5 linked regions of the Homo sapiens genome follow. The protein of the gene in region 1 interacts with the protein of each later gene in a pairwise test. Each region holds a gene or a part of one and is shown on either strand. Other genes may lie near its edges. The genes, in order: FAM25A, KLHL35, LCN1, TTPA and ARMC10.

Region 1 (6,403 bases):
GATTTCCTTCATCTTTTTGTCCCCTGACTCTTGGGCTTTCTTTATGGCTTCAGCAATGGCTGTTGGAAAGAAAGAGGAAGAATGTCCTAGTGATCCACCCGCTGAACTTGTGTCCCCTTGAGTGGCCTGTGGGATGTGGCCATCTTAATGGATTAGTCTCTGGAGTGGCCCGATGGGACCAAGGGCAGCAGGATTACTGCAGAATGAATTTGAATTTGGTTTTAATTTCCCCAACAACTTGCATTTCTTCAACTGTGAGTGAGACTGAGCATCTACTCATGGGTACATTGCCTGCTTATCCTTTTTTCTGGAAAATGCCTGCTTATGTCTTTTGACCATTTTTATATTGGGTTGTTATATTGGATTATCATTTTTATGACAAATATTTTTCATCAGTGTGTAATTTTTCTTTTGGCTTGGTTTATAGTTTTTTTTTTTTTGGCTATAGAAAATTTCAGTTTTGGATTGTCAAATTTACTTAATATTTCCTTTATGGCGCTGATTTTTTTGTCATGGTTCTAAAGATTCTCCCCTCTCCAAGATTAGGCCAAAGTCTTTTATGTTATTACTATGTCTAAATGTTTATGATGTCTTCCCCCTCAAAACTCATACGTTGAAATCCTCAGTCTTAATGTAATGATATTAAGAGGTGGGGCCTTTGGGAGGTTGAAATTAGCACCCACATAAAAGAGACCACAGAGAGCTAGCTCCTTCCACCATGTGAGGACAGAGCTGGGCCCATCCACGAACCAGAAAGACTCCCTCACCAGATGCCAAATCTGCCAGTGCCTTCCTTGATCTTGGACTTCCCATCCTCCAGGAGTGTGAGAAATTTCTGTTGTTTCTAAGTCGCCCAGTTTATGGTTTGTTTTTGTTTTTGAGACAGAGTCTTGCTCTGTCACCAAGGCTGGGGTGCAGTGGTGCAATCTCAGCTCACTGCAACCTCCGCCTCCCAGGTTCAAGGGAGTATCCTGCCTCAGACTCCTAAGTAGCTGGGATTACAGGCATGTGCCACCACGCCCAGCTGGTTTTCGTATTTTTAGTAGCAACGGGGTTTCACCATATTGGTCAGGCTGGTCTTGAACTCCTGACCTCAGGTGGCCCACCCACCTTGGCCTCCCGAAGGGCTAGGATTACAGGCGTGAGCCACTGCACCTGGCCTATGGTATTTTATAATAGCAGCCTGAGCTAAGATGGTTATCTCCTAGTAAGTTAATAAATTCATTTATGTAAATTTAAGTCCTTCATCTACCTGGAATCTATTTTGTTGAAAAGGAATGAGATATACATATGCTTTGTACATAGTTCTACTCATAGCTCACACACATCAATTTAACATTTAACATAGAATTTTACATGTTAAATTTTTTTTTTTTTTTGAGACGGAGTATCACACTGTCGCCCAGGCTGGAGTGCAGTGGCACGATCTCGGCTCACTGCAAGCTCCGCCTTCCGGGTTCACGCCATTCTCCTGCCTCAGCCTCCCGAGTAGCTAGGACTACAGGCACCCGCCACCGTGCCCAGCTAATTTTTTGTATTTTTAGTAGAGATGGGGTTTCACCGTGGTCTGGATCTCCTGACCTCGTGATCCGCCCACCTCAGGCTCCCAAAGTGCTGGGATCACAGGCGTGAGCCACCACACCCAGCAATTTTTTTTTTCTTTTTTTTTTTTTGAGACCGAGTCTCACTCTGTAGCCCAGGCTGGAGTGCAGTGGCATGATCTAGGCTCACTGCAAGCTCTGCCTCCCAGGTACACACCATTCTCCTGCCTCAGCCTCCCAAGTAGCTGGGACTATAGGCACCCACCACCATGCCCGGCTAATTTTTATGTATTTTTAGTAGAGATGGGATTTCACCGTGTTAGCCAGGATGGTCTCAATCTCCTGACCTCGTGATCCACCCTCCTCAGCCTCCCAAAGGGCTGGGATTACAGGCGTGAGCCACCGCGCCCTGCCATGTTAAATGTTTTGTCCCAGTGTGCTGTCACATAGTCTTGTGTGACTTTGTCTTCTTATTCCACAGACAGAACCATCTAGACAGTGCCCTAACGCAGTACAGTCTGTGGCCTCTGATGAGCATAGATAACTGCCCCAGCCAAGAGGCTCTGAAAGGCTGCAACATTGGGGGCAGAGTTTGACCTGGTTAGTCAAAGAACAGGTTGGCCCAGCACCTAGCTTCCCTTGCTCCCTCCCTCCTTCCCTGCCCGACCTCAGCCAGCTGTACCTTTCTCTCCAGTCTCCTTGGCGTGTCCCACCACCTCCTTCACCACTTCTTCCACGGCATGAACTGAACAGAGGAGACAAGTCCAGGGTGAGGGCTCAGAGCAGAGCCGCTGCCCTCCCAGTCCAGGGTGAGGGCTCAGAGCAGGCCCACTGCCCTCCCAGTCCAGGGTGAGGGCTCAGTGCTGGCTTATCCTCACAATGGACCTATACATCCCTGGACATCCTAGATGGGGCTCTGGGATGCCACCCCCAGCCAGGACAGACTGGCTCATGAGAAGGACCTTCCCCCACAGCTGGCTTCCTTCGGAGACGCCAGGGCCTTGGCTGCCGGGAGACGAGCTCAGTGAGCCCCATGAGGGCATGGGTCCCTGAAGCCCCTTGGCCCTGCCCGGCCTGGAATGGCAATGAGCAGGCCATCTTGCCAGCTGAGACATGAAGCCCAGGCTGGGCCTCTGTGCCAGGTCACACCCCTCTCAGGATGTGCTAGCGCCTGCCTCAGGTTGGTTTCCAAAGCCTCATCCAGTAAAACCAGGTCTCTCAAAGCAATTCCTCCAACAAAAGGGAATTCTCTGCCTACTTCAGAGTTTTTTAAAGTGTAGGTGGTAGCATGCTAGAACTGAAGGATTTCAGAGTCAGAAGAAATGGTTCTTATTCTAACTCTACCTTCCACCTCTTGGTTCCCTCATCTTTAGAATGGGAATCTGTTGGGGTGATGAGACCCAACACCAGGTCGCGGGGGCGGCAAGTCCAGAGGAGTCAAAGGAATGAGAAAGAGACAGTTTGAGAGAGAAAATGGGAGCGGGGCGCCATCGCGAGTGTGGAGGCTGCGAAGGCCCGGAGTTCTGGGAACCCATGCTATTTATTGGTGATCTAACAAAGAAACAGGTGGTGAGGATGTGGCGGTTGAAAGGAAACGGTGTATCAAGTGAATGAGAAACATACGGCTACTTGAGAAAATGGGAGTGCTAGAAGCAAGGAGCCAGCCAATCTAGCAAGCCCTGCCTCAGCTTCTCTCCCAACACTCAGCTTTTCTCCCAACAGGAATCATACAAAACTCAGAGGCTAGTGAAAGGTTAAAGCAGGTGGTCCACACCAGCTGCAGAGTCAAAAACAAAATACGCGTCTGCTGCCATTTAGAAAGAGGACACAAACTCAGGCAAGACTGTTTTTCACACGATGACCCATGAGTGGCTCCTGGCTGGGCCTCCCCACACATAGCTGCTGACCTCTGAATACAACATACACTTCGGGACCAGGTGCGGTGGTTCACGCCTGCAATCCCAGCACTTTGGGAGGCCAAGAGGAATGGATCACTTGAGGTCAGGAGTTTGAGACCAGCCTGGCCAACATGGCGAAACCCTGTCTCTGCTAAAAATATAAAAATTAGTTGGGCATGGTGGTGGGTGCCTGTAATCCCAGACACTCAGGAGGCTAAGGCATGAGAATCACTTTGAACCCAGGAGGCAGAGGTTACAGTGAGCCGAGATCGCACCACTACACTCCAGCCTGGGTGCCAGAGCAAGACTCCATTTCAAATACAAATAAAAATAAAAATAAACATGCTTCAGGGGACTTGGATGAAATTGAAAATGCCCTTTTTGACTTTGAACAGACTTGGTGACTTGTTTAGAAATCTTTGAAGCTTTAAAGTTATGGTAAAAATAAAAATCCATCTTCCTTTTCCTGCATAGGTTATTCAGAATAGGCTGTTTTGACAAGAAAGGCTCCCCAGATTTCCAGAGGGAAGGGTCCAAGCTGCCAGTGTTCACCCAGCACCAGGACTCATGCCCTGCCCCCAGGAGACCTCCCCAGGTCTGCACCCCTCAACTCCGTGCTGACTTGGTAGAGCAGGGGACCAGGGTTCCTGAGGGGCCAAGGCCTCCTCCCAGGTCCTCACCTGCCTACTTAGATCCGCCTCCCACAGACCCAGTCTGCCCCAGATCCCCCCAGCCCAGGTAGAAAGGAGCCCCAGGTCCTCACTGGCTCCCTCGGTGGCCTTCTCGGTGCGGTGGGCCAGGCCTTCGGCAGCCAGCTTCCCCAGGCCTCCCAGCATCGTGTGGCAGCAGACAGTGGTGAACTAGGATGCTGAGGACTGGCCCAACATGCTTTTATAGCTGCCTCTGGTGCCTGTCTAGGCTCTGGGGCAACAAGCCCTTGCCCCAGCCCAGTAGGAGGCTGGACAGGTGAGTCAGCGAGGGCGGCAGCAGGAAGGGGCTGGGCGGAGCCACCCTGGCACTGGGGTGGCAGCATCCCCTGACAGCCTGAGGCTTCTGTAACCCTGTCCTAGGGACCCCGTGAAGGATAGGGGCAGGGAGCAGGGCTGGACAGGAGAGATCTGGACATGCCTCTTCCTTGAGGCAGAGGGCCTGAGTGCCAGCCCCCCGAGACCAAAACTTCCCAAGCCTGGGTACTGATATGTACCTGGAGACAAGGCCTAGGATTCCAAGCCTGCTGCTCAAGGTCCCCAGTGTGGCCTAGTAAGAGGTTTAGGGGTTCTATGGGCCTGGAGACCTGGGCAGTCCTTTGGGTCATGAACACAAGTGGAGTGAGGGTGACTGCCCTCCCCATTCCTGGAGACCCTGGCTCTGCAGAGCAGTTTGTGGCCTCTATGGGACAGGGTGGGGCGTTCAGGGTGGTGCCTTGCCTGAGTCAGAGGGGGGCACAGCACTGGGCAGAAGTGTAGTCACCTGGCTTTGCTCAGCTGATGCTCACTCACCCAAGAGTGTCTGTGAGGCCAGCAGTGCCCTCCTATCCCCTGGCAGTCCTGGAGGAGTAGACAGAGGCCTCCACCACCACTCAGGGAGATGCTTCTGGCCTTAGCTAGAATCCCCTAGAAAGCAGCTTCCCTGGCTCCTGGTGCATCACATGAGGAGTGGCAGGGCTGCTCCCTAGTTACTCATGATGGACAGACATGCCTCAAGCCACCTGCCACATGCTGCTTCCCTTAGTCACCAGCCCAACCTGAGCCTCCGTTTCCTCATCTGTAAAATGGGGATAGCGTGCCTTCCTGGCTGTGTCACTAATCGTCCCTGAGACAAAGCATGCAAGCTCCTGGTAAACACCTGTTCCCTCCACTCATCATTGAGGTGCCCTTTGGCAGTGAGCTCTGACCAACCGGTAGGGTGGGCCAAGGAGTGACTGGGACGTGAGGCTGCCTTGGAGCCAGAGGGCTGGGGAATGTGACTTCCGCTGGCCAGGAGCCAAGGAGAGGTCTTCCCATCCTCCTACTTCTGGGGTGCAGGCCTGTGGCAGGGGTCTGAGGCTCTCTCTTCAATGCAGGCTCCTGGAGCTGCTCTCCTGGGTGTGTTGGGGCCTGATTAGTTTACTGGACTGTGGGCCCTCCCAGCCTGGGACTCGGGAGCTGAGACCCTCTTGCATTCCTGCATGGTGTTTGCGGGCTCCAGGGCTACGGCCAGTCCCCCTAGGGTGGACAGTGGGTATCGTGGGCAGCAGGACCTCTGGGTCTCAAGACTACGGCCCCACACATGCCATTGCTATCTCCTTTGGGCAGGGGTGAATTGGGGCTTAAACAATTTAGAGGGGCCCTCTTTATGAAAAAGAATACAATAATATGATTCTTGCACATTTTTCATTTATATACGTATGAACTTCTGGACCCAGAAGGGGCTGTGAAAGTCGGGGGCCTGGAGCTCAGGCGGGTCCAGATGACCCTGTCCTCCTTTTGTAACAGCCAGAGTCCAGGATGTTTTTGCCCAGGGCATTGGGCTGGCACTGCAGAGGCCTGGGGGATGGGGGGACACCTGGGACATGGCTGGTGGGAATTGTTCTAGGAAACCTCAGGGATTCTCCCTGGACCTGTCAAAGCCCCTTCCCTGTTTCTTCTGAGGCTGTGTGTCCCCCACTCGCACAAGGGTCCTTTCTATGCCTGTTCCGCTGATAAATGTCATCTGCCTGCTCTAGAATGGCTTCCAGACCCCACAGACCCCCTCCTCACGAGCTCCCACCCTAGGGTACTCTCCACCAGTCCCCGCTTTCAGGAGCTCACCAGACTCAGACAGCCTGTTGTCAGAGCTCAGCCACACAGCAGGACCCTGGCCCACTGCCCAGACCAGAGCCAGGCCCACCGCAGCCTCGGGGGACAACTGTCCTTCCCCCACCCCCTCCACATGGTCCCCTGCCCATGAGACCCTGCCCTGCTAATTTAATGCACTGCCTTGGTG
Region 2 (5,851 bases), on another chromosome or scaffold:
AGCATAAAACACAGTCCTTGCTCCCCTGGAGTGTCCTGGAGAGGAGAGAGACTTCACTTTTACTGCCAGGCAGAATGTGATCAGAATTCTCAGAGTCCCCAGATGATCTGGAATGCCACTCAGGGAATCTAGCCAGGGTTCATAGAAGAGATGACTTTTCAGCTGGACCTTGAAAGTTGGAGGGAACAGTATGGGCAAAGGCACAAGGGCAGGGACATGCAGAAAGGAACCCTGGGGACTCAGGGCTCTGAAGTGCAGGTTGAGTATCACAGGTGAGGCAGGAGTCAGATCAGGGAGGCTTTGAGTCTGGGGCTAGGTGGATTGACCTTAATGTTGTAAAGAACTATGGGTGCCTGCAAAGAGTAAGGAGCAGGAGAATAAGCCAGGGAGGCCTCACAGACCATCCAGGCCACAGATTACCACTGGACAATTTATCCAAGGCCATTGATGGCTCTGAGCAACATGTGGGGCCTTTGTTGGGTGCCACTAGGAATAAACAAAGATGGGGCTACCAAACAGATGTGGCTCTGGTCACAGGCTCAGGCTGAAGGGTGCAGTTAGGGTTGTCCCCAGGGAGGCTCCCATTGAGAGGTGAATCCCTGGCCAAGATCCCCAGGGTGGCCAGACATGGGAAGGGAGAGTCCACATCCTGCATCCCCAGTACCTGGCCCCATAGGGCATGCCATGTCCTCCAGCAGCACCAATGCTGGGCCTGGAGCCAGAAGCTCTGGTTCTGGCTCTGACAAAAGGCCATGTAGTCTTCAGCAGGTCATTGTTGGTCTCTAAGTCTCATCTGAGTTTCTTATATGTAAACTGGGTCTAATATTCCCAACACCTCATGGAGGGATGAGATCAGAAATGAAATTGTGCAGGTGAAGGCAGAAGGGAGGGAGGGTTATTGGGTCACCCTCTACCTATCCTGGCTCCCAGTGCAGCTGGCTCTGCTTTTCCTGGATCCCCAGTACATTCCAGATGCTTGCCTTAGGTACCCTTTGTACTCTTACCTTTAGTACAGCGGCCCCCTCTTTGCTTTCCTGAGCACAGAGCCTGGCACACCACCACCACCACCACAAGGTGCCCGGCGAAAACCAGCCCCTTCTTCCTGAATGTGTCAGGCTTCTCCCCTCGAGGGTCGTAACTCAGACATTCCCACCACTTATTCAAAGCACACTGGGTCACAGGTCCAGAGTCTTACACCAGCTCAAGAAGTCCTCCTGCTGCCTTCCCTTAACCCTTCCTTTGGATCTGGGGGCCCTAGTTTCTAGCTCTTTGGGGGTGCTTGGGATAGCAAGAGAGCCGATGGGCAACAGCTGCTTCTCTCTCCCTAGGAGGCCACATCAACAGTCATGATGTGTGGATGTTTAGCTCCCATCTGCACACCTGGATCAAGGTAGCCTCTCTGCACAAGGGCAGGTGGAGGCACAAGATGGCAGTTGTGCAGGGGCAGGTAGGCACGAGCTGCAGCGGCTGCCCTGGGACACAAGGTACAGATCTGTGGATGTGCTGGAGGGAGGTTCTCTAAAACCCTCTCTTTGTAAGAAGGGGTCTGAAGCCCCCCAAAAAAGGAGACTTGTCCAAGGTCACATAATAATGGCTGATGCTAATAATAATAGCAATTACTGTAATAGTAACAGCCTGATGGTCAAGGGTATGGGCTCTGGGGCCATAGAGTCTAGGTTTGAATCTTGACTGTGCCACTCAAGAATAAAAGAATCTGTCGGCCGGGCGCAGTGGCTGTAATCCCAGCACTTTGGGAGGCCAAGGCGGGCGGATCACGAGGTCAGGAGATCCAGACCATCCTGGCTAACACGGTGAAACCCCGTCTCTACTAAAAATACAAAAAATTAGCTCGGCGTGGTGGCTGGTGCCTGTAGTCCCAGCTACTCAGGAGGCTGAGGCAGGAGAATGGCATGAACCTGGGAGGCGGAGCTTGCAGTGAGCCCAGATTGCACCACTACACTCCAGCCTGGGCAACAGAGCGAGACTTTGTCTCAAAAAAAAAAAAAAAAGTCAATTATCTTTGTAAGCTACATCCCGAATTCAGAAACAAAGATGCTTCTTAGAATCAATTAAGTGGGGTGGTAAAGTCTCAATACTAGCTATTATTATTAAGCATCAGCTTGGTGCCAGGTATTTTACAGCTGTAACCATGCAGGTTAAGGTCTCATCCCCGCTAAATGAGAGGAAACCGGCTCAGGGAGGTACAGCAACTGGGTGGAGGCTGCCCAGGTGGTGGCAGCACTGGGCTCGGGGGTCAGTTTGGTCCTGAAACTGGGTTGGGGACAGGGATAGTTTCCAGCTCAAAGACTGTAAGGACTGAAGCGATGAGGCCGAGGGCCCTAAGGCCCTGGCACCCGGCTCCCCGGCCCATGTCCTCACTTGCAGCTGTTCGCGGTGGGTGGCTTCGACGGCCTGAGGCGCCTGCACAGCGTGGAGCGCTACGACCCCTTCTCCAACACCTGGGCGGCCGCCGCGCCCCTCCCGGAGGCCGTGAGCTCGGCGGCGGTGGCGTCCTGCGCGGGCAAGCTCTTCGTGATTGGGGGCGCCAGGCAGGGCGGCGTCAACACGGACAAGGTGGGCGTGGGCCTCAGGCGCGAGAGGGCGTTGAAGGCTGGGGTGCCCACTGTGTGCCAGGCGCAGAATTGGGCGTTTCCATGCCCTTGTCCATTTATTCACTTAATCCCATCAACAGCCCAGACCAGTCACCTCCATGTTTCAGGGAAGGAAATGAGCAGAAAAATGACCCCAAGGTCACACAGTGGGTCAGCAGCACACTGGGACTCAAATGTTTGGGCTGGTGCCATGTAAGTTTCATACATTTTAAAAATTGAGGGCAAGATAGTTAAAATGCTTTTGTTCCATTCCAAAAACAATACACTTACTACTGAAAATTTAGAAAACACAGAAAAATAGAAAAAAAAAAAACCCATAATCCCACCGTCTAGGCAGAGCTGCTATTCATATTTTGGTGTGTTGCCTTACAGGCTTCCACTGAATTGATTTTTGTTTTTCTTACAGTTTTGTTTTGTTAGAATTTTGCATTCTGCATTTTATTCTAATTTAGGTATGAGCATTTTCCACGTGATTATCAACTTTACAGCCATCATTTCAATGTCTGTACTATTCCACATGGTGGATGAACTAGAGTCTACTCATCTTTTATTGTTGGGACATTTAGGCTTTTTGCAAATAAAAATATTTATCATAGCAGTTCCTTCCCTCCCCTGATGGCCTCATAAGCCTGTGGTCCTAGGACTTGACTCTTTCCCAAATTAGGGTGCCCACGCTTCCTTATTCCCTGACCACATTCTTCCAGCAAACCCTCCTGGAGCTGAGTGATAGGCACTCATGGTGGGAGGCCCCATTTAACACCATCCATGCAGCACTGATTTGTTATAGGCTGCTGTGGGGGGAGGGGGTCTCCAAGGAAACAGTTGAGGAAACAGAGAGTGAGGTGAGCAGGCAGCTAAATACAGAAACTGTTAAGGGCATCAGAAACACCCATGGGCATGTGGACAGCTGTAGAAATAGGGCTGCAAGACACCTCAGCTAGAATCTAATGACCTGAGAGCACCAGGAAAAGAGAAGGGAGTTGACAGTGTATGCAGCTAGGAACACATCCCCGTCGGGGGTCTGCTCTGAGGACCCTCTATAACCCTAAAGCAGACAGTACCTCTCCCAGCTCAGTATGATGTGCTCTATGATTAATCTAACATGAGGCGACTGTGTTCTCCATCAAAGGAGAGACTGTTCCTGTGTGTGTGTGTTGAGGGGTGAGGGGAGGGGGGAACACCAGGGAGACCTTTAAGGATGGGGTGGCATTTGAGCAGGACCTCGAAAGATGAGGAGGCTTTTGACAAAGGGAGTCCAGAGGCAGAGGACAGAACATAGAACTAGATGAAGAGCCCTTGAGGGCAGGGACGGTGGACCTCCCCCTCCCTCCCAGATGCTGGCTCAGGCCTGGTGGACACTGGCAAATGTCGTTTTGAATGAGTGCCCCCGGGGGGAGAGGTGGCAGCATGTGGGCGGTGGGGCATTTGTTGGGGGGGGCGGTGAGTCTTCACCACTGCTGCTCTTGCCCCTCAGGTGCAGTGCTTTGACCCCAAGGAGGACCGGTGGAGCCTGCGGTCACCAGCACCCTTCTCACAGCGGTGTCTCGAGGCTGTCTCCCTTGAGGACACCATCTATGTCATGGGGGGTCTCATGAGCAAAATCTTCACCTATGATCCAGGCACAGATGTGTGGGGGGAGGCAGCTGTCCTCCCCAGCCCTGTGGTAAGTGGAGGCTTCAAGGCAGGAGAGCGGAACCCGCTTCTAAGGCTCTGGATCTTGGAGCTTGTGAATCTTGTGACTCCATCCTAGGTGGTTTTATTATACATCACTCTCTAGCTCATCCTCACAGTGATAGTGAACCATGCATTTCACAGATGAGGAGACTGGCCTTAGAGAGGTTCAGCACCTGGCCCAGGCCAACAACTAGGCCCTGTTAAGGCAGAGCCTAGAACCCTGCAGTCCCAAGTGCTATAGCTTTGAGTGGGGATTTGGTCCAAATGACCCTGTGGTCTCTCCTGCCCCGAAGGCCACTGCTAGTAACCAATCATGAGGTAAGATGTGGGGAAGGGAGTTGCTAAGGTCTGCTCTAGTGATATCAGAGCAGGGAGGCCCAAGTCCTGGAAGCTCTGGCCCCTGCAATTCCCTGCCTCCCCTACCTTCTTCTCCATCCCCTGAAACTCCAGAGACTACACAGATATGGTTGGACTGGAGGTCTCTGCCAGTTCTGACCTTTGGTGACCTTAGAGGTGAGATTTCTGGCTTGAGTCTGAGATTCTAAGATGGCGGCAGTCGAGATTATTGTTATTGGTGTGCTTACCACATTCCAGGCTCTATGTAAAATGCTTTATATGCTTAACTTCCATTAACTGTTAAGGGAACCCTGTGAAGAAGGCACTTTAGTTCTTCTCCCTTTGCCGATGAGGAAACTGAGGTCCAGAGAGGTTAAGTGACTTGCCTAACGCCATTCACTGAATAAGGGTCAAGCTAGAGCTGGAACTCAGGTCCATCCAGTTTCCTGCCTCTCTACAGTCCAGATTGCCTGTTCACAGTCTGTGGGTCAAGGTTCTATTATCTGGCCTGGCCAGGCAGGGACAGAGGAAGCCCCAGGCTGGACCTGATAGTTGTCTTTCTGTTTGTCCACCCAGGAAAGCTGTGGAGTCACTGTGTGTGACGGGAAGGTCCACATCCTTGGCGGGCGGGATGATCGCGGAGAAAGCACCGATAAGGTCTTCACCTTTGACCCCAGCAGTGGGCAGGTGGAGGTCCAGCCATCCCTGCAGCGCTGCACCAGCTCCCACGGCTGTGTCACCATCATCCAGAGCTTGGGCAGGTGATTCAGATTTGGACAGCCTGAGCCAGGAGGCGGAGAGGCAGGCGGAGCTCAGATGCACACTCTGCTCCCTCATGGCACCTCCACGCAAACAGCCCTTAACTTAATGGTCCCTTTTCTTGTATAAATAAAATCTTGTTGGGTCTGTGTTCCAGCTGCAGTCTGCCCTGCCTGGAGATGGAATGTCTAATATTTGCTCCCTGTGTTTACTCTTGATGAAGCACTTTTATACCATTGCAGTCTGTCTGGGCTACTATCACAAAACACCTTAGACTGGGTGATTTATAGACAACAGAAATTTATTTCTCACAGTTCTGAAGGCTGGAAAGTGCCAGATCAGGTGGCCAGCAGATCTGGTGTTTGATGAGGGCTCTCTGCTTCCTAAATAATGTTTTCTTGCTGAGTCTTCACATGGGAGAGGGAGGCCAGGCAACTCCCTCCAACCTCTCCTATAAGGCTCTAATCTCA
Region 3 (6,319 bases), on another chromosome or scaffold:
CTCCAAACTCTGGTCCCCTTGTGCAGCCAGCAAGGGGCCCATCTGACACAGCGAGCACAGGCACGCCTGCCACTTTGCTGAATCTTTGAGCAACTTATCGGGTAAGTGGAGTCACAGGCATGGCCGAGGGTGAGGGGTGCTGAGGAGGAACCCGAATCTCCTGCCTGCTCCTGCCCATGTGACTGGGGGGTAGACACCGTCTCCACCAGCAGCCAGCAAAGGCGGGCTCAGCGCTGTGGGCTTCCCAGCTGCCCAGGAGTCACACCCAGGGCAAGAACGGAGTCTGACGCCCGAGCGTGGGCAGCTCAGGAGCAGAGCTCCCACCTGCCTGACCTACGTGGGGCATCTCCCACCCAGGTAGGAGTGGGATGGGTGGGAGAGACCCCATGGCCTCTGGAAGCACCACTGAGCCCCAGAACTGGATTTTCTCAAATGTCCTCTAAAGCTGTTCACTCACCCTAATCGCTCCCTGGAGAGCAGGTTTCTGCAGGAAAAGGAAGCACAGGCGTTAGGAGACCCCAGGAATGCAGTCAGGACCGGGGCCCCTCATCAGCCACCAGCTCCACCACCCCAGGAAGGACAAAGCCAGAATTAGACGCAGCACAGTTATGCGCCCGTGCAATGCAGCTCTGCTGATGTCCCCACGCGGGGACATGGGGGGCTCTGCAGGGCCATGCCTCCTACCGCTCTGCCTGGGGATGAGGATGCTCTCCGTGCTGAGTCCGCGGGCTCCTGCGGCTTTCTCAAAGTCCTCCAAGGCTTCCAGGTTGTTCTTGGGGTCTCTGCCTGTGGGTGCCAGGACGAGATGTGGGTGCTCGAGGCAGCACTGGGCCGACGGCACCCCATCCCAGTCTGGAGGCCTGAGCTGGGCTGGGGAAGGGGACCTCGCCCACCGTGGGGGGAATTGAACCCAGAGGCCCTCAGGCTGGCAAAGTGGGACCAGGGTGCCGTGCACGGCTGAGAAGGCTCCTGTGGCAGCAGAACCGGGAGAACGGGAAGGGCTCTCCATCCATCCCTGAGCATCTCCCGGAGTGAGGATGGACGGCACGACAGGCCCACCCTGGAGGAAGCGCCTCTCCCCTTGGGGGCACCAGGATCCCAATCCTCTGTCATTCGCACACCCCTGGCTCCAGGGAGAACTCAGGAGCCTTCATGGGCCTCGTCCTCTGACAGGGACAGCACTGATGAGTCACCATCTGTGGGAGGCACCGCGTCCGGAATTCAACCCCGGGAGCTGGAACGTTCTTTCCATGCAGACTTCTGCTCACATCCCTGTTCCTCTCTCCTGCTGGACACCCCACAGGAACGCGCTCAAGGATGACACTGCAGGGAGCTGCTCCGGGGGAGGGCCTGGCCCACTCTGGGACATGTGTGACCTTTGAACCCCTGTGCCTGCAGCCGTGGCTCCTTCCTGCCTCTGCTGCAGATACCGAGGCCGGGGCATCCCAAATCCTGAACTCCAGGGGTGGGAATTGAGGCCTTTATCAGGAAAACTCATCCTAAGAAAACTGCAGTGGGTTCCTGGGTCCCAGTGGCTTCTCCCATGGGGAAGAGGGTGCAGGAGGCCGAGGGAGGAGGGAGGGCAGGTGGAGGCATGGGTTGCAGGGTGAGGGTGCGGGACCCACCCACGAGCTTCACCCCTCGGACCGGCTTCCCGTGCAGCTCGCCCTCACAGTAAAAGATGTAGTGGTCCTTCACGTGCGACCTGATGATGTATGCCACGTGCTTGCCCCCGTCTGCAGAAAGACAGCAGCACATTCCTGAATTAGCCACCAGGGACTTCAGAGAGGATCCCGGGACAGCGTGCGTTGCCAGGCCCAGCAAGCCCCGCAGCTCCTGCACCCTCCCAGCCTCCCAGAGCTCCCTGACCCAGGTTCCCCACCAGGCCTGAGCCCCAGGCCATGGGACCCCCACTTCCCAGGAACCTGATGTACCCAAGAGGCGGCCACATCCCAAACCAGTGAGTCACGGGGGGTTCCTCCGGGTATGAGGTCTGCGGAGGTGGGAGTTGGGGTACAGCCCCCCGCAGCCAAATACGACTCTGCTCCTGGCCCTGCCAGAGCCACAGCCAGGGCTACAGGGCAAGCCCAGAGGGTCCGCCCCGGGACAAACCTGCCACACCTGGTGTTTGGGGTCAGGTGTTCAAGTCTCTAATGCAAATTGACCAGTGGGAGAAGAGAGTGGGCTTTTAGTGGAGTCAGAAGGCAGCAAAAGGCTTCCCAGGCCAAAAGGCCACCCCAAAAAGGCACTGGCTGCCCCCGCACATCCAGCGTGTGTTCAAGCTCAGGCTCTGGCTCAGGCCCCGGGACTCACCGGCCGTGTATTTTCCCGGCTCGTCAGTTTTCTCCAGGACGGCCTTCACCTCCTGGCACCGGCCACTTATCCTGGAAAACAGAAGCCCCCTGGCAAAGCGGCCCTGGCCTGTGCCTCCCCCGGCCCTGGAGCAACCATGCTGCAATGCCCTGCAAATGTGGCCCCGAGTCTGCCACAGGCCCATGGAGGAGGGTGCTTCTCTGCATCTCAGACCCAGGCACCAGCGGCCCCTCCGGGTCCCATGCGGCAGTTCCCGGGGTCTCCCGAGATGGCCAGGAGCTCTGCACCGCTCCTCCTGGTGGCTGCCTTCCCAAACCCCCCGCCCCCAACACATTTCCTGCCAGAGGCACCCAGGCTGCCTGGTTTGCAGGCAGCGTCTGTGGCGTGGGCCTGAGCCTCATCCCGCCAGCTGCATTCTTCCTTTTAGAGACATTCAGGCACAAGCCCCATATCCATCATCATCTGGCCCAGAGAGGGAAAGGTTCAGTGAGGGGCTTTGGGGGAAAAAAAAATCGGGGTCATTGCCAGGGTCAGTGACTTCCTGAGATTCAGCCCCCAGGACCGGAGCACAGGCACTGCATGCCACTCAGGAGGGAGCCATGCGGGTGAAATCACACAGGTGGGAAGTCACAGATGTGAGCCACGCGGGTGGAAGCAGCCCAGGTGAGAGCCGCACAGGTGAGCGCTACACAGGGATTTCAAGGGGGTCTTCTCCATGGTGTCTTCTCCTATGCCCCCTCTTGGTCATTCTGCAAGCCCCATCCCTGCACTTCTCCAAAGCAGAAATTTACTGCCAGGACTGGCTCTGACTCTGGTCGGGGGTAAACACCTTTTCCCAAAGGGGCCTGCACGTCACCAGACATTCCCTAGTCGGAGGAGGAAGTGGGCGGTACCCAGGGCTGCCACTGGTAGCCCACAGGGTCTGATCCGGGGCCTCTGCCCCCTCAGGGCCCCTCCAGCCGAGGCACCTCAGTGGCACAGTTTGCCCTCAAGCATTGCAGGAGGGGCCGAGAGAGGCCTCCCAGCAGGTCTGCCCACCTCCCCAGCACCAGAGCTCTCCTGGGTGGGGAAAGGGAAGGCCCTAGACCAGGTTGCAGGCTGCCCGGCCGGCTGGCAGACACTCACAGCATGGTGACCTTGGCTTCCAGGTTGCCCCCTTCCAGGGTCGTGAGGGTCATGGGTGTCACCGATTCCAGATTCATCTCAGGGAACTCCCTGTCCACCGTCATGGCCTTCAGATACCACGTCCCTGACACCTGGAGAAGGCCCCTCTCTATCAGGCTCAGGCCGACTGCTCCAGAGCCTCCCCCTTCCCTGGCCTGCAGCCCCTAGACTCTACCGCACCCCGAGGGCTGGAAACGGGGAACGTTCCCCAATCTAACCCACCCAGAAAACACCCAGCACCCTCGCCAGGCCCACTTGAAGGTGGCTCCAGCCCCCACAAGCCAGCCAGGACCACAGGAGCCCTCATCCCCAGGGAAGAAGTGAAGTCAGCCAGACCCCCACCCTCCCAGCCCTGCCCACTCTGCACCCCTGCGCCACCTACCCTGCCAGCCCAGACCCCTGCTGCCCCATCCCACCATTCCCTCAGGGCAGGGCTTGAATGCCCAACCCAAAAACGAGGGTCTCCTTGGATGGAGGAGGCATGGGGTCTCCATCCAGTCTCAGCCTCGCCCCTTGCCCCCTCCAGCCCAGCCTTCCCATCCGGGCCTCACATCCTGAATCTCCTCGTCTGAGGCCAGGAGGTGGTGGGCCTGCAGGGCAGCAATGAGGCCAAGGCTGACGGCCAGGAGCAGGGGCTTCATCTCCGGAGTCTGAGTCCACGGCCGCCTGACAGGTCGCTTGCTGGGGCTGGGAGAGGCTGTACCAGTCCTCCCACAGCCGCCCTTTATACCGCTGGGCTCAGGGTCCCCCAGGGACCTGGCACAGGAGACTGACCAATCCCTTCCTGGATGTAAACCACTGCCAGTTCTGCAATGGAGCAGATAACCTGCCATTATTGTTGGAGGCTGGTGAATAACAGCTTGTTAATCCCAGAGGATCACTTGGACAGGACCAGGTCCAGAGGAGCAGATTTGCAGATTTCACCTGAAGGGAAACTGAAGGGAGTGAAGGGTGTGCAGGCCTCCTGGGGACGTGTGCAGCCGTAACAGATGCCCCCCAGCCATCCCACACTTGCTGACGTGCACACTGTCAAGGGGGTTTGGGGTTGGAGTCCGAGGGCCGTGGGCTTGGGGCTCAGCTGAGCTTCCTGCATCTCTGGGCAGGTTACTTGGCCTCAGATTCATCATGGAAAAAAAGGGACCCTCCTGTGTGAACACGATCCCGTGTGCATTTAAAGACGGTGTCCACTGTCCTGAGCAAGGTGTGCAGTAACGACCCTCTCTGCTCCACACACAGAGCAGCAATAGGTCAGACAGACAGAAGACCAAGACAGGTGTGTGTGTGTGTATGCATGTGTGTACATATATACATGCACAAACGCACACACACTCACATAAAACAAGGAATGGAGGAGAAGCACAGGCTGGTGATGGGGCAGAGGCAGGGGCCTGTCAGCTCCAAGTCCCAAGGCAGGCAGAGAGGGCCTAGGTCCGGCTCCTGGGAGTGATGGGAGGGGCTTCCCTGACTCCAGAAAGAAGGCTGAGAAACCCTCCTTGACACATCCCAGGGCTGTAACTTCGTATAACTTAGTGGAGCACTGTGGGCATAGGAAGGCAAGAGGACATCAACACAGCCTCAAGGGCAGAAGCTGAGACAAGCCGTCCTTGGAAAGGATGACTTTATCTGTGACATGCTCTGCATCACTGCAGAGCAGAAGCCTGGGACCCGGGATGGGAGCAGAGGCTACAAAACACTGCTAGACAGAGGACAGTGACAACAAGATGGCAGAGAAAGGCAGAAATGCAGAGACACAATATCCTCACCTTGAAATAAGCTAGAAAGGCCAGGTTCCAAATTACCCAAGGAAACACCACACTAAGAAAGGCAGGCTAAAAATGAGCAATTGGTACAGGAACTTACACCAGCCAAGGAAAGTCTGACACACACTTTAAAACTGCAGGAGTATGATCAAGATGCCTAGTGATTTAAAAATATATAAAGTATAAAATTAGAACTGGCCAGAATATAAGAAATAAGGAGAGACGAAATAGAAATAATTACAAATCTTGAAGATGAATAATAAAGTGAATAAAAAACTCAATAGACAGGTTAAATTCCAGACTTGACATAGTAGAAAAGAGACTTAGTGTCATGGAAGATAGTACTAACAAAATCAATGAAAGCAGAAAAATTCAAAAGAGAAATTGAGGTGTTACAGATAGATTCAGTCTCCAGCCTGGAGCTAGTAATAAAATGAGTGGAGGAAACCAACTAGAGTGCAGCAGCTCTGAAAACACAACACACAGAGATATACACACACACATGCACACACACGCACACACACATGCACACACACACATGTGCACACATACAAATGCACACAAACCCATACACATGCACACCCACATACACACGCAGACATACACGCGTGCACACACCATTCATTCATACATACATGCACATACATGCACACATACACACACACATGCACACTCACACACATACACACATGCACACACATGCACAAAGTTAACACACATGGAGAATAGATCAGGAGGTTCCAATATAAACAGAATAGGAGTTCTGAAAGAAAAACATTTTCTAAAATGGCAACAAAGCAACAGAATAGCTCAGAATTCTTCAGAATTGAAAAGACATGAAGATGACACCCCAGATCTAAATTACCAAGGAATGATCAAAATTGAGAAATCCACTCCTAGAATATTACAGTGAAATGCAGATCATCCAGGAAAGGAGAAAAAAAGTCAAAATGACCAGAAAGAAGAGCCACACTACATACCATAAAAGCGGATGTGGACTGATGGCAGACCTCTCAATAGCAACGCTGCCTTCCGGAAGACAGTGGAGTGACGTCTTTAACAGACCCGGGAGAAATCACATT
Region 4 (5,851 bases), on another chromosome or scaffold:
AGAGAGATGCCTTTTCACTTCCAACATGTGAGGTTAAAGTGAGAGATGTCACCTAGGAACCAGGTAGCAGGCCCTCACCAAACACCAAATCTGCCAGTGCCTTGATCTTGGATTTCCCAGCCTCCAGAACTGTGAGAAATAAAATTCTGTTTTTATAAGTCACCCAGTCTACGTCATTTTGTTATAGTGGCCTGAATACACTAAGACACCAACCTACAAGAAACACTAGCTACACCTAATAGAAAAAAAGGGGATGCAATGAGAATAAACAGGAGTTAATGGAATACCGTGTCTGCAACAGCTCCCAGAGGAGTTGCCTTTCCTCTGCACCCTCCTCCACCCAAGAGAATGAGCCTCTTGCTCCTCGGCCTGGGGCATTTTCGAACTAGTCATTCACTCACTCATTCCACAAATATTTAGTGACTACCTACCAAGTACCAGACCATGTTTTCAGTGCTTGGGATACACCAGCAAACAGAGTAGATGAAATCCACAATCTCATGGAGTTTACATTATAGCCCAGAATTCTGGTTGTTTTTTGTTTGTTTGTTTGAGACGGACTCTTGTTCTTTTGCCCAGGCTGGAGTGCAATGGCGCAATCTTGACTCACTGCAACCTCTGCCTCCCAGGTTCATGCAATCCTCCTGCCTCGGCCTCCCGAGTAGCTGGGATTACAGGTATGCACCACCACACCCAGCTAATTTTTGTACTTTTAGTAGAGACGGGGTTTCACCATGTTGGCCAGGTTGGTCTCGAACTCCTGACCTCAGCTGGGATTACAGGTGTGAGCCACCATGCCCAGCCAATAGTTCAGAATTCTTATTTGCACTTCCTACTAAGCATTTTTGAAACACTTTTCCATGATTTTTTAAAATATTCTCACACTATTCATCTTCACTATTTTCCTTTCTTCTTATTTTGTACAGTTGACTGTGTGGAAGAATGGAACTAGGATTTTCACTTGTATCTGTTAATTTTCTCACAATTACCAAAGTGTTATTATATTTGGGGGACATTAAGACCTAAATTAAATCTAAGTTAAAACCTAAAATTTTAAATTAAAGCCCAAATTCCTAAAGATGAATGCATTGAAGCTTTCTATATGGTATTCAAGGAAGAAATGGAAGAAAGAGAGAAGAGGAGAGGGGAGGGAACACAACTGAACTGGAGGAGAGGAGAAAAAAAAAAGAGTTGTGTATGACTTACCGATTCTGTAAATAAGAACTTTGCTGCCAGTGGGATCCCTGGATCTCAGGACTCCATGGTAGCCAGCCTTTAGGAGGCCAATAATACTTCTAGGGTGTAGATCTGCACTTATTTCTGGACATTCTGCTCTCCACTTATAATAGTTTTTTAGTAACTGAAAAATAAAATTAAAATTGTCTACAAATGGCATACATGGTAATGATTTTGTAAAAATGGAAGAAAAGCTTTGGCATTGTGTATAAACTTTGCCATCCATTATGTCAAGAGTTTAATCTAGGGTATCTTTTCAGCTGTGAAAACTGAAAGTTCTTTTATCAAGGATCTGAGGTGACAGGGGTTAATCACAAATTCAGAGCTGAGCAACTTTCATTCACCACCCATGGTAGATATCCTCCAAAGACAGCCACCAATTCCTCCCCTCCTGATACCCATGCACCATTCTTCCCATTAAGAGATGGCATCTATTTGCTTCACTCCCCTTGAATCTAGGCTGGCCTTCCACCTTGCTTTGATCTAATATCAACTGGCAGAAGTGATACTGTGTGGGCCAAGCTTTAAGAAGCCTGGTACCTTCTGAATGTACTATTTGGGATCCAGACACTATGTGAGATTACTGAATGATAGCAATTCATGTGGAGAGAGGCATGGAGGTTGAGAGGACATCCTGGATAGTGTGACCTCAGCCAAGTTCCCATCTAATGCCATGTGGAACAGAGATGAACCACTCCCACTGAGCCCTGCCCAAACTGGTGATATCAAAAACAAATAAATCATTGTGTTTTCAGCCACTAATTCTTGGAGTGACTTGTTGCTCAGCAATAGAAAGCTGAAACACCACTTTTAGTATTTTTTGAAATAAGGAAGTATAGAAATCAATCAAATGAGTTAGAAGAGCCCAGGAGCAGTATACTTGGATACTGGATCTTGTCAAAATATGGTCTGAAGAAATCCCATTTTCTTTCTTTCCAAAAGAACCACCGGAAATAGCTAATCATATACGCAAACATACAAACACTACCAGCATATTGTGGAAAATACTAAAGCAAATTATGTATTTAAAAATTATTATATTTATATTTTAATTTTATTCTCATGATTTTTGGCACTCTCAATTTTTCACAAGTTACAATACATTTGTTTTGAGTTTAAAGAGACTTATTAATGTGAGACTGCAGTGCAGAGAAAATGACAGATTTTATATTTGAGAGTAATTGGAATAAACAAGGTAACTATAACCACAAAAATCACAATGATCTGGAGGAGAAACTACAAACGACAAAAACTAGAGAGGGAAATGCTGAGCCTTGGGAAATGTTAATGGCTGGGAATGGCTGGAGGAAGACAGAAACTGAGTGGACCTGAAGAGAACCAGCACTGGTACACGAGAGGGAGGACAGTGCCATCTGCATTGCTCTGCTCCCCCTCACCCCCATCTCTGATTTATCTCCCTCTCTTTCTCTCTCTGTCTGTCTCCCTCTATTTCATTTCTGTATTTAATAAACCTTTCTTAACTTTGAAAAAAGAGAGAATGTTGCTAAGAGTTAAATGCAAGAGAGGAGTAAGAAAGAAAAAAGTCAATTTGCCAACAAAGAAATAATTGGTGACCTAAATAGCAGTTTCCAAAAGCATGAGAACAACAGGCACATTGTAGGTCCTAATATCTTCATTCTACTCTACACGGTGCATTTCTCTTCCTCCTCCAGTCTTAGGGGGTACCAGAATAACTGTTAACAGTATTTTACAATGCTTTTTACTTTTCTGATAGTTTCCTCAGACATAAAAATCTTTTTCATTCCAATTCAAGTAAAATGCTGGAAGCTGCACATTAGTAACTATATAGAAATAATGTGTTTTTTTTTCCTGTGGAATGATAAAAGTTGTGGCTTCATTAGAAGGGATCATTTAGGTTTAATACTGGCAGGGGCCTCAGCTTATTCATCTCTGCAGAGTGCTGCACACCCAGGAGATAACAACACGTGTTGAATGAAAGAATAAATTAAGTCATGAGTAAACCAACTGGAACCACACACTTGAAAAACTGACTTCTGTAAAGAGGCACAAATCACTATCTCGCACAATTTTTGCAAACTGAAAGATCTAAACCTGGAACTTTGGTCTTTACTTATCCACTGATACATAAATTCACAGTATAGCTGTCATAAATAAATTATGTAAATAAACTGCTACTGAGCAATTCTCAAACAAACCACCCTATGTCCACAACAACAACAAAGAAGTGGCTAAAAATAAATATTCATCATTGGAAGGTGTCTGTTTTGCAAACATTAGAAGTAAATAAACATTTAAAATGTTATGGGTTAACTATGTTTTGTAACAGAGTAGGTTTCTTCTTACATGTTTCATGTACTTTGAAACAAAATAAGAACCACCATATTTGGAGCACTTTTATAGGGTCTAATGCCATCTTTTGAATTCCTCCTCACCATCACCCTGAGAAGTAGCTACTGTTGTGGCATTATAAGAATAAGAAAAGTAAAGCTCCAGCCAGGCACAGTGGCTCATGCCTGTAATCCCAGCACTTTGGGAGGCCAAAACGGATGGATCACGAGGTCAAGAGATCAAGACCATCCTGGCCAATATGGTGAAACCCCATCTCTAAAAATACAAAAATTAGCTGGGTGTGGTGGTGCGTGCTCAGGAGGCTGAGGCAGGAGAATCGCTTGAACCTGGGAGGCGAAGGTTGCAGTGAGCCGAGATTGCGCCACTGCACTCCAGCCTGGGCGACAGAGCCAGACTCCGTCTCAAAAAAAAAAAAAAAAAAAAAAAGTAAAGTAAAGCTATGAGAAATTACACATTTGTTCAAAGGCAATAACTATCAGGAGCAGAGTGGAAACTGAAATGGACACATGATATGAAAAATTTTATAAAAGAAGCTGCATTTAGAGAGAAATTAGCAGGGAGAATCTATGGAATTTGGAAAGCTTTGGGAAAACCATAAAGATAATTATAGCATAAAAAGCTTATCACATGGAACAAAAGTATAAGGAACTAGGCTATCACTTGATATAAGGAATTCATGAGACTATGTAGAACAGGCAGAGAAGTGAATGGTTAGCTGTTTTATATGTTTGTTGTTTTAAATATAAGAGGCAAGTGCAGTGTATTTGACAGCGCAGGCTCTCTCCTGAGCCCAACCCAAATTCAAATCCCTGCTTCAACACTTAATGGCTACATAATTTCAGACAAGTTACTTACTCTTTATATCTGTTTCTTCTAAAATGAGAAAATAATAAAAGATAATCCATGAAAACCCTACTTACCAAAGTATGTTGCATTCTATAAGCACATTAGCTATTAGGATTATATAATAAAACCTTATTAATTCATCATAACTTCAAATACAAACACTAGAATAATGAGAAATTTCATTGTGACTGAGGCACTTATCAAGCTTTCTTTATACAAAAACTATAGGGCTTCTATATTATGAATGAAGAAGTTAGAGTTGAATTAAGTGCTATTGCAGAGGAAAATGAAAAAAAGTTTTGCACTCTTACCCTTTCCTTTTCCTTTCCAGTTGGCAGAAAAGCAAGACAAAGAGTTCACAGACAGAAACTTGATTTCTATGCGGTGGATTTAGACACAGTCCTGCTAGCCAATTCCTCAAGGGCATGGTACAATGAAAACAATTCCTTATTTAAGGAATACAGAAAAAAATATATTATGTCCCAGAGGCTGATGGTCAATTTTATTTTTCTATTTAAACATTACTTTTTTTAAAGCAGCTAAAATGAAATTAGTAAATGAAACATGTTTTATTGTTAGTTATCTCTATACATATATATGTTTAATGCCTCATTTAAGCTTCATTCTTCATAGGACCTGAGATTGTGTTTTCATATTCAGTAGTTACTAAGTACATATTAGTTTATTACTCATGATATTGGGATACTTATATAGCCATCTAAAAAATGAAAATAAATAAAGTTGGATTCCTATTTTACTCCTAACATAAAAACAAATCTCAATAGATCAAAGACCCCAACATAAAAAAGAGAAGACACAAATAACTAGAAAAAATTTTGGACAAGAGAAGAGATTATAAAACCCAGAGGCAATCAAAGACTAATAAAATCAATTCATTTGATTACATTAAAATTTAAAATTCTGCACAGAAAAAAATAGTATAAGTAATGTAACAGATAAAAATCAAGGACAAAGGCCTAAAATATATAAAAAGGCCTAAAATACATAAAAATATTTTATAAATCAGTAAAACATAAAAATGGGATCCATTCCAAGATGGCCGAATAGGAACAGCTCCAGTCTGCAACTCCCAGTGTGATCGATGCAGAAGATGGGTGATTTCTGCGTTTCCAACTGAGGTACCTGGTTCATCTCACTGGGACTGGTTGGACAGTGGGTGCAGCCCATGGAGGGTGGGCTGAAGCAAGGCGGGGCATTGCCTCACCCAGGAAGTGCAAAGGGTTGGGGGATTTCCCTTTCCTAGCCAAGGGAAGCCATGACGGATGTACCGGGAAAAACAGGACACTTCCACCCAAATACTGCACTTTTCCCAAGGTCTTAGCAACTGGCACACAAGGAGATTCTCTCCTGTGCATGGCTTGGCGGGTCCAACACCCATGGAGCCTTGCTCACTGCTAGCGTGGCAGTCTGAGATCTA
Region 5 (5,851 bases), on another chromosome or scaffold:
TTACATGATCTCAAATCTGTGTTTTTTCTTAAAACACATAAAATTGTTAGGCTGGGCATAGCAGCTCATCTCTGTAGTCCCAGCACTTTGGGAGGCAGGAGAATCACTTCAGGCCAGTGGTTCGAGACCAGTCTGCACAACATAATGAGACCCTGTCTCTATTAAAAAAAAAATAAGTAAATAAAATTGTTAAAGGTGATTATTTTTGGGTAGTGGGATTATGAAGGACTTTTATTTTCTACCCTGTACTCAACAGTACTTTTTTTTTTTTTTGCAATAAACAGGTATTATTTCTGTAACTAAAATAACTAAGTATATTGCTCAAAGAAGAATCACACACACACACACAAAAATAAATAAAGGGACAAGTATAGATTACACATGGGAAACAATATGTGGTACGTGATATATAATATGTGATGCCCTGAGGAAGCCAAATAAGAAATGTTAAGAAAATGTCACAGCTACAAAGCTAGAATATTCTCACTACCAAGTCTTAATCAGGACCTTTTACTTTTGAATACACTGTTGGCCTCATTAACACCTTATAAAATAGCGTTTCACCCAAAGAATACTTGAAAAGATAAAGGAAAGAATGATAAAAACACAACTTTTTAGAACGGAAAGAATTTGGGGTTCATCCAAACCTCTTATTTTACACAGGAAGAAACTGAAGCCAGGATTGTTCAAGGATCTGCCTAAAGTCACAGGGGTAGTTAGTAGCAGAAACCACAGAAATGAAAAATCAAAGTTACAAGTAAGTCACTTACTATTTTTGGGGGTCTCAGTTTTCTCATCTGCAAATAAAAGGGTTGGCTTAATACTGTAACTGGCTCCAGAGTTTCCTACACAGCCCTGAAGTTGTATGATTTCATATACACATGCATACATACACGTGCACATGCATGGCAGAAATGTGATAAATTTAACTCATCCATATTTGAGATATTTCAAAATCATACCACTCTATGTTATCTCATGAAGTCATTTTTAAAAAGCTTATAGACTGGGTGCAGTGGCTCACGCCTGTGAACCCAGCACTTTGGGAGGCTGAGGCGGGCAGATCACTTGAACTGAGGAGTCTGAGACCAGCCTGGCCAACATGGTGAAACCCCATCTCTACTAAAAACAGAAAAAAATTAGCCAGGCGTGGTGCAGGATGCCTTGTAATCCCAGGTACTCGGGAGGCCGAGGCGGGAAAATTGCTTGAGCCTGGGAGGCAGAGGTTGCAGTAAGCTGAGATTGCATCACTGCACTCCAGCTTGCGTGACAGTAATGAAACCTTGTTTTTGTTTTTGTTTTTAAAAAAGAGAAAGCTTATAGATGTATAAATTCTTTATAAATAGCCATTTAAAATTTTTCTAGGGATTAAATCACTAACGATAAAATTTCACGGTGTTGTATCACAGAATTCTCACTTGGTGGGAAGAGGCACAATGTGGTAGTTAAAACTAAGCCAAGGCTATGGGGTCAGGTTGTCTAGTTCAAATTCCCAAATAAGCTACTTACCAGGTAAGAGACTTAGGCTCTCTCAGCCTCAGTTTACTCATCTGCTAAGTGGGAGTTAATAGTGCCTACCTCAAAGCACTTTTGTACCTAGAATATTTAAAGTGACTAGTATATTATTTTCATTAATGGGACACATAGCTGATTAATAATAGCAAAAGTGGCTTTAGAATCCAGATCTTTTTACTCCTACATTACTCTTTCCTCTCAACCATTATTCCTCCTAGTATATTAATATAATGAGCCTAGCTGAATGCGGTGGCTCACACCTGTAATCCCAGCACTCTGGGAGGCTGAGATGGGCGGATCACGAGGTTAGGAGTGCAAGACCAGCTTGGCCAAGATGCTGAAACCCTGTCTCTACTAAAAATACAAAAATTAGCCAGGCATGGTGGCACATGCCTGTAATCTCAGCTACTCCGGAGGCTGAGGTAGAAGAATTGCTTGAACCTGGGCGGCAGAGGTTGCAGTGAGCCGAGATCCCACCACTGCACTCCAGCCTGGGCAACAGAGCAAGACTCCATCTCAAAAAATAAATGAATAAATAAAAAATAAAATAATGAGCCTATACTTTAATTCTATATATTCTCTTTGAATTTCTAATAAAAACCATTTATCGGCCCAGCACGGTGGCTCACACCTGTAATCCCACCACTTTGGGAGGCCAAGGCAGGCAGATAAGCTGAGGTCAGGAGTTCGAGACCAGCCTGGCCAAGATGGTGAAACCCCGTCTCTACTAAAAGTACAAAAATTAGCCAGCAGTGGTGGCACATGCCTGTAGTCCCAGCTACTCGGGTGGCCGAGGTAGAAGCATCACTTGAACCTGGGAGGCAGAGGTTGCAGTGAGCTGAGATCGCACCACAGCACTCCAGCCTGGGCGACAGAGCAACACTCCATCTCAAAACAACAAAACAAAACAAAAACCATGTATAACTTTTTAGTAAAGAAATGTAAAACTTAAAACTCTAAAAATTTTACAGGAGGGCGATCATCAAATACTCAGCTCTTCCACTGGTGAGTTTTTGGACTGCTATTACACAGGTGAGGAGTCAAACATGTGTTCTACTTTCCATCTAGCTCTGTGCCAACAAGACTGTGAAAGAATCTTAGGCTCGGTGGTTTGTGGTCTCCTCCAGTAAATCAAGGAGAAATTAGAATTCTCAAAGGGAATGAAAAGTGACTACCACATTATAACGTAGCAAGACAAATTTCAAGATAACTGTCATGGTTCAGAATCTTTCCAACTGGGAACACAATATGCCTGTTTATGTAGTCTTAGGCCCTTCAGTAAAATTATCTTCTCACTACAGGAACTCCTAGTTTTTAAAGTGAATTCCTAATTTTTAAAGTTTTTATAGCTATCATGAATGATATATATTTTTTGAAACAGGGTCTCATTCTGTCAAATAAAATATTTTCAATTAAAATTTTGAATTGTTACTGCATGTATACAAGAAGTTATTGATTTGGGTATATTTACTTGTACTCAAGATATTTTATTAAACTCATTGCTTCTAGTAGTTAGTTAATTCTCTTGGATTTTTCCAAGTAAATCATTATGCCACCTACGATTATAATTCTGCCTCCAATATTTATGCATGTTGTTTTCTTATCAAGCTATGACTCCAGAAGAACGTTGAATAGTAGCTGTGATAGCAGACACCCTTCTCTTGTTCTTGAGTTTGATAAGGATGCTACTAACTAGTGTGTCTATTAAATACGATATTTGCTTTTGGGTTTTGATGGATGTACTTGATCAACTTAAGAACATTTCCTTCTATTTATTCCTTACTTGCTGCAAGTTTTTATCAGAAATGATAAAATTTTTTTTCTTTTTTTTTCCCCGAGCTTCAGCTATGGAAAGAAATATTTTAATGCCTTTTTATTATGAGGTCATCATGTGGCTTTTCCTTTTTCTAGTATGACTCCTCCTTCCATGTCCATTTGGCCTTGGTATATTATTACTTTAATCCCCTGATAGATTTGACTTGCTAATATTTTAAGATTTTTATATCTTTATTCATAGTTGAGACAGATTTATAGTTTTTCTTACCATCCTTGTCAGGTTATGACGTTAGATTGTTGGATGAATTGGGACTGTTTCCGTCTTTTTCAATGCTCTCAAACCACGTTAGTACAAAAATTATTTTATTTTTTATTTTTTAAGACAGAGTCTTGCTCTTTTGTCCAGGCTGGAGAGCAGCGGCACAATCACAGCTTACTGCAGCCTTGACCTCCTGGGCTCAAGGGTTTCTCCCAAAACAGCCTCCTGAGTAGCTGGGACTACAAGTGCACACTACCATGCCTGGCTAATTTTTCTATTTTTTGTAGAGATGGGGTTTCACTATGTTGCCCAGCCTGGTTTTGAACTCTGGGCTCAAGCGATTCTTCCACCTCAGCCTCCCAAAGGGATTAGAGGTGTGAGTTTAAAACAAAGAAAAGATCGCCACTGCACTCCAGCCTGGGCAACAGAGCAAGACTCCGTCTCAAAAAAAAACAAAAACAAAACAAACAAAAAACAAAAGATCATCTTCTGAAATCTAAGCGTGATGATGACTTTATTAGTCCATTCTCATGCTGCTATGAAGAACTGCCCGAGACTGGGTAATTTATAAAGGAAAGAGGTTTAATTGATTCACAGTTCCACATGGCTGGGGAGGCCTCAGGAAACTTACAATCATGGTGGAAGGGGAAGCAAACACTTCCTTCTTCATAGGCAGCAGGAAAGAGAAGGAGTGCAGAGCAAAGGGGGAAGCCCCTAATAAAACCATCAGATCTCCTGAGAACTATCACGAGAAGAGCATGGAGGGGAGGGGAACTGCCCCCGTGATTCAATTACCTTCCACCGGGTCCCTCCCACGATGTAGGGATTATGGGATTACAATTCAAGATAACATTTGGGCCGGGCACAGTGGCTGATGCCTGTAATTCCAGCACTTTGGGAGGCTAAGGCAGGCACATCACCTGGCCAACATGGTGAAACCCTGTCTCTACTAAAAATACAAAAAAAATTCGCCAGGCACATGGTGTGTACCTGTCATCTCAGCTACTCCGGAGGCCGAGGCAAGAGAATCGCTTGAACCCATGAGGTGGCGGTTGCAGTGAGCTGAGATCATGCCACTGCACTCCAGCCTGGGAGACAGAGTGCGACTCCGTCTCAAAAAAAAAGAAAAAGATGAGATTTGGGTGGGGACACAAAGCCAAACCATATTGATGATGAAATGAGCATTTCTCAAGTCTTCTTCAATGATAAAGGAGTAGCTTCAGGAAGAAGGGACTGTGAGCAAATTATTTTTTAAGCTGCCTTACCTAAGATAATGATGATTATGGGAACTGTTAAGTTTAAAAGACTGTCCACATTCATCAGATTGAGTCAGTATAACTGAGAAGATATCTGAGTCCAGGACACCTTCCCAATGTACTTATACAAAAATATCTCTGACATGGGCAAAGACAACAAATTAGGCTTTGTAAATGCTATGATTTGAATGTCTCCTGCGAAACTCATGTCGAAACTTAATTCCCAATGTGGCAGTATTGAGAGGTAAGGCCTTTAAGAGGTGACTGGATCATGAGGGGTCTGTCCTCATGAATGAATTAATCCATTCATGGATTAATGAGCAGGACTGGTGGCTTTATAAGAACAAGAGACCTGAGTCAGCATGTTAACACACTTGCCCCTCTGGCCTTGGGATGCCCTATGCCACAACAAGAAAGCCCTTACCAGCTACGGCCCCTCAATCTTGGACTTCTCAGCTTCCATAACTCTAAGAAATAAATTTCTTTCCTAATAAATTACCCAGTTTCAGATATTCTATTATAAGCAACAGAAAATGGACTAATACAGTAAGGGTACATACAAATCTTTAAAAAAAAAAAGCTGAATTATACCTAGTGGCAAAAGTGAGAGAGACCTTCCCCTTCCACTCCCTTTTTCTTAAAGCATTCCCTCGTGCAAACTTGTAATTAAAAATCCTTTATTGGCCAGGTGAGGAGGCTCAATCCTGTAATTCCAGCACTTCGGGATGCTGAGGCAGGAGCACTGCTTAAGCCAAGTTCAAATCAGCCTGGGCAACATGGTGAAAACTCATCTCCTAAAAAATTGGAAAAATTAGCCAGGTGTCGGTGTGCACCTGTAGTCCTAGTTACTTAGTGGGGTGAGGTGGGAGGAGCCCAGGGAAGTGGAGGCTGCAGCTGTGATTGCGCCGCTGCAGCTGTGATTGCGCCACTGCACCGAGCCTGGGTGACAGAGGGAGTCCCTGTCTGAAAACAAAACAAAACTCCTTTTTCTGCTTCTTTGATACAAATGTAAATCTTTTTGTTTGTTTTTTGTTTTTTGAGACAG

Evidence for each region.
Region 2: the proteins of FAM25A (region 1) and KLHL35 interact in binary tests that used the Homo sapiens proteins (3 or more experiments, as listed by UniProt).
Region 3: the proteins of FAM25A (region 1) and LCN1 interact in binary tests that used the Homo sapiens proteins (3 or more experiments, as listed by UniProt).
Region 4: the proteins of FAM25A (region 1) and TTPA interact in binary tests that used the Homo sapiens proteins (3 or more experiments, as listed by UniProt).
Region 5: the proteins of FAM25A (region 1) and ARMC10 interact in binary tests that used the Homo sapiens proteins (3 or more experiments, as listed by UniProt).

What each region holds. Positions count from the first base shown.
Region 1 is NC_000010.11:87,018,197-87,024,599, reverse strand, and holds the start of FAM25A (protein FAM25A), read right to left. Parts: upstream 4,307-6,403; 5' UTR 4,276-4,306; coding exon 4,203-4,275; intron 2,287-4,202; coding exon 2,224-2,286; intron 60-2,223; coding exon 1-59.
Region 2 is NC_000011.10:75,422,116-75,427,966, reverse strand, and holds the end of KLHL35 (kelch-like protein 35), read left to right. Parts: intron 1-1,328; coding exon 1,329-1,447; intron 1,448-2,385; coding exon 2,386-2,574; intron 2,575-4,086; coding exon 4,087-4,275; intron 4,276-5,198; coding exon 5,199-5,387; 3' UTR 5,388-5,573; downstream 5,574-5,851.
Region 3 is NC_000009.12:135,519,297-135,525,615, reverse strand, and holds the start of LCN1 (lipocalin-1 isoform 1 precursor), read right to left. Parts: upstream 4,177-6,319; 5' UTR 4,119-4,176; coding exon 4,029-4,118; intron 3,570-4,028; coding exon 3,439-3,569; intron 2,385-3,438; coding exon 2,314-2,384; intron 1,737-2,313; coding exon 1,626-1,736; exon of another isoform or gene 1,114-1,625; coding exon of another isoform or gene 787-1,113; coding exon 685-786; coding exon of another isoform or gene 509-684; exon of another isoform or gene 485-508; coding exon 459-484; coding exon of another isoform or gene 458-458; intron 1-457. UniProt on the Homo sapiens protein: Could play a role in taste reception. Could be necessary for the concentration and delivery of sapid molecules in the gustatory system.
Region 4 is NC_000008.11:63,071,729-63,077,579, forward strand, and holds part of TTPA (alpha-tocopherol transfer protein), read right to left. Parts: intron 4,860-5,851; exon of another isoform or gene 4,725-4,859; intron 1,361-4,724; coding exon 1,207-1,360; intron 1-1,206.
Region 5 is NC_000007.14:103,076,828-103,082,678, reverse strand, and holds part of ARMC10 (armadillo repeat-containing protein 10), read right to left. Parts: intron 798-5,851; coding exon of another isoform or gene 771-797; intron 1-770. UniProt on the Homo sapiens protein: May play a role in cell survival and cell growth. May suppress the transcriptional activity of p53/TP53.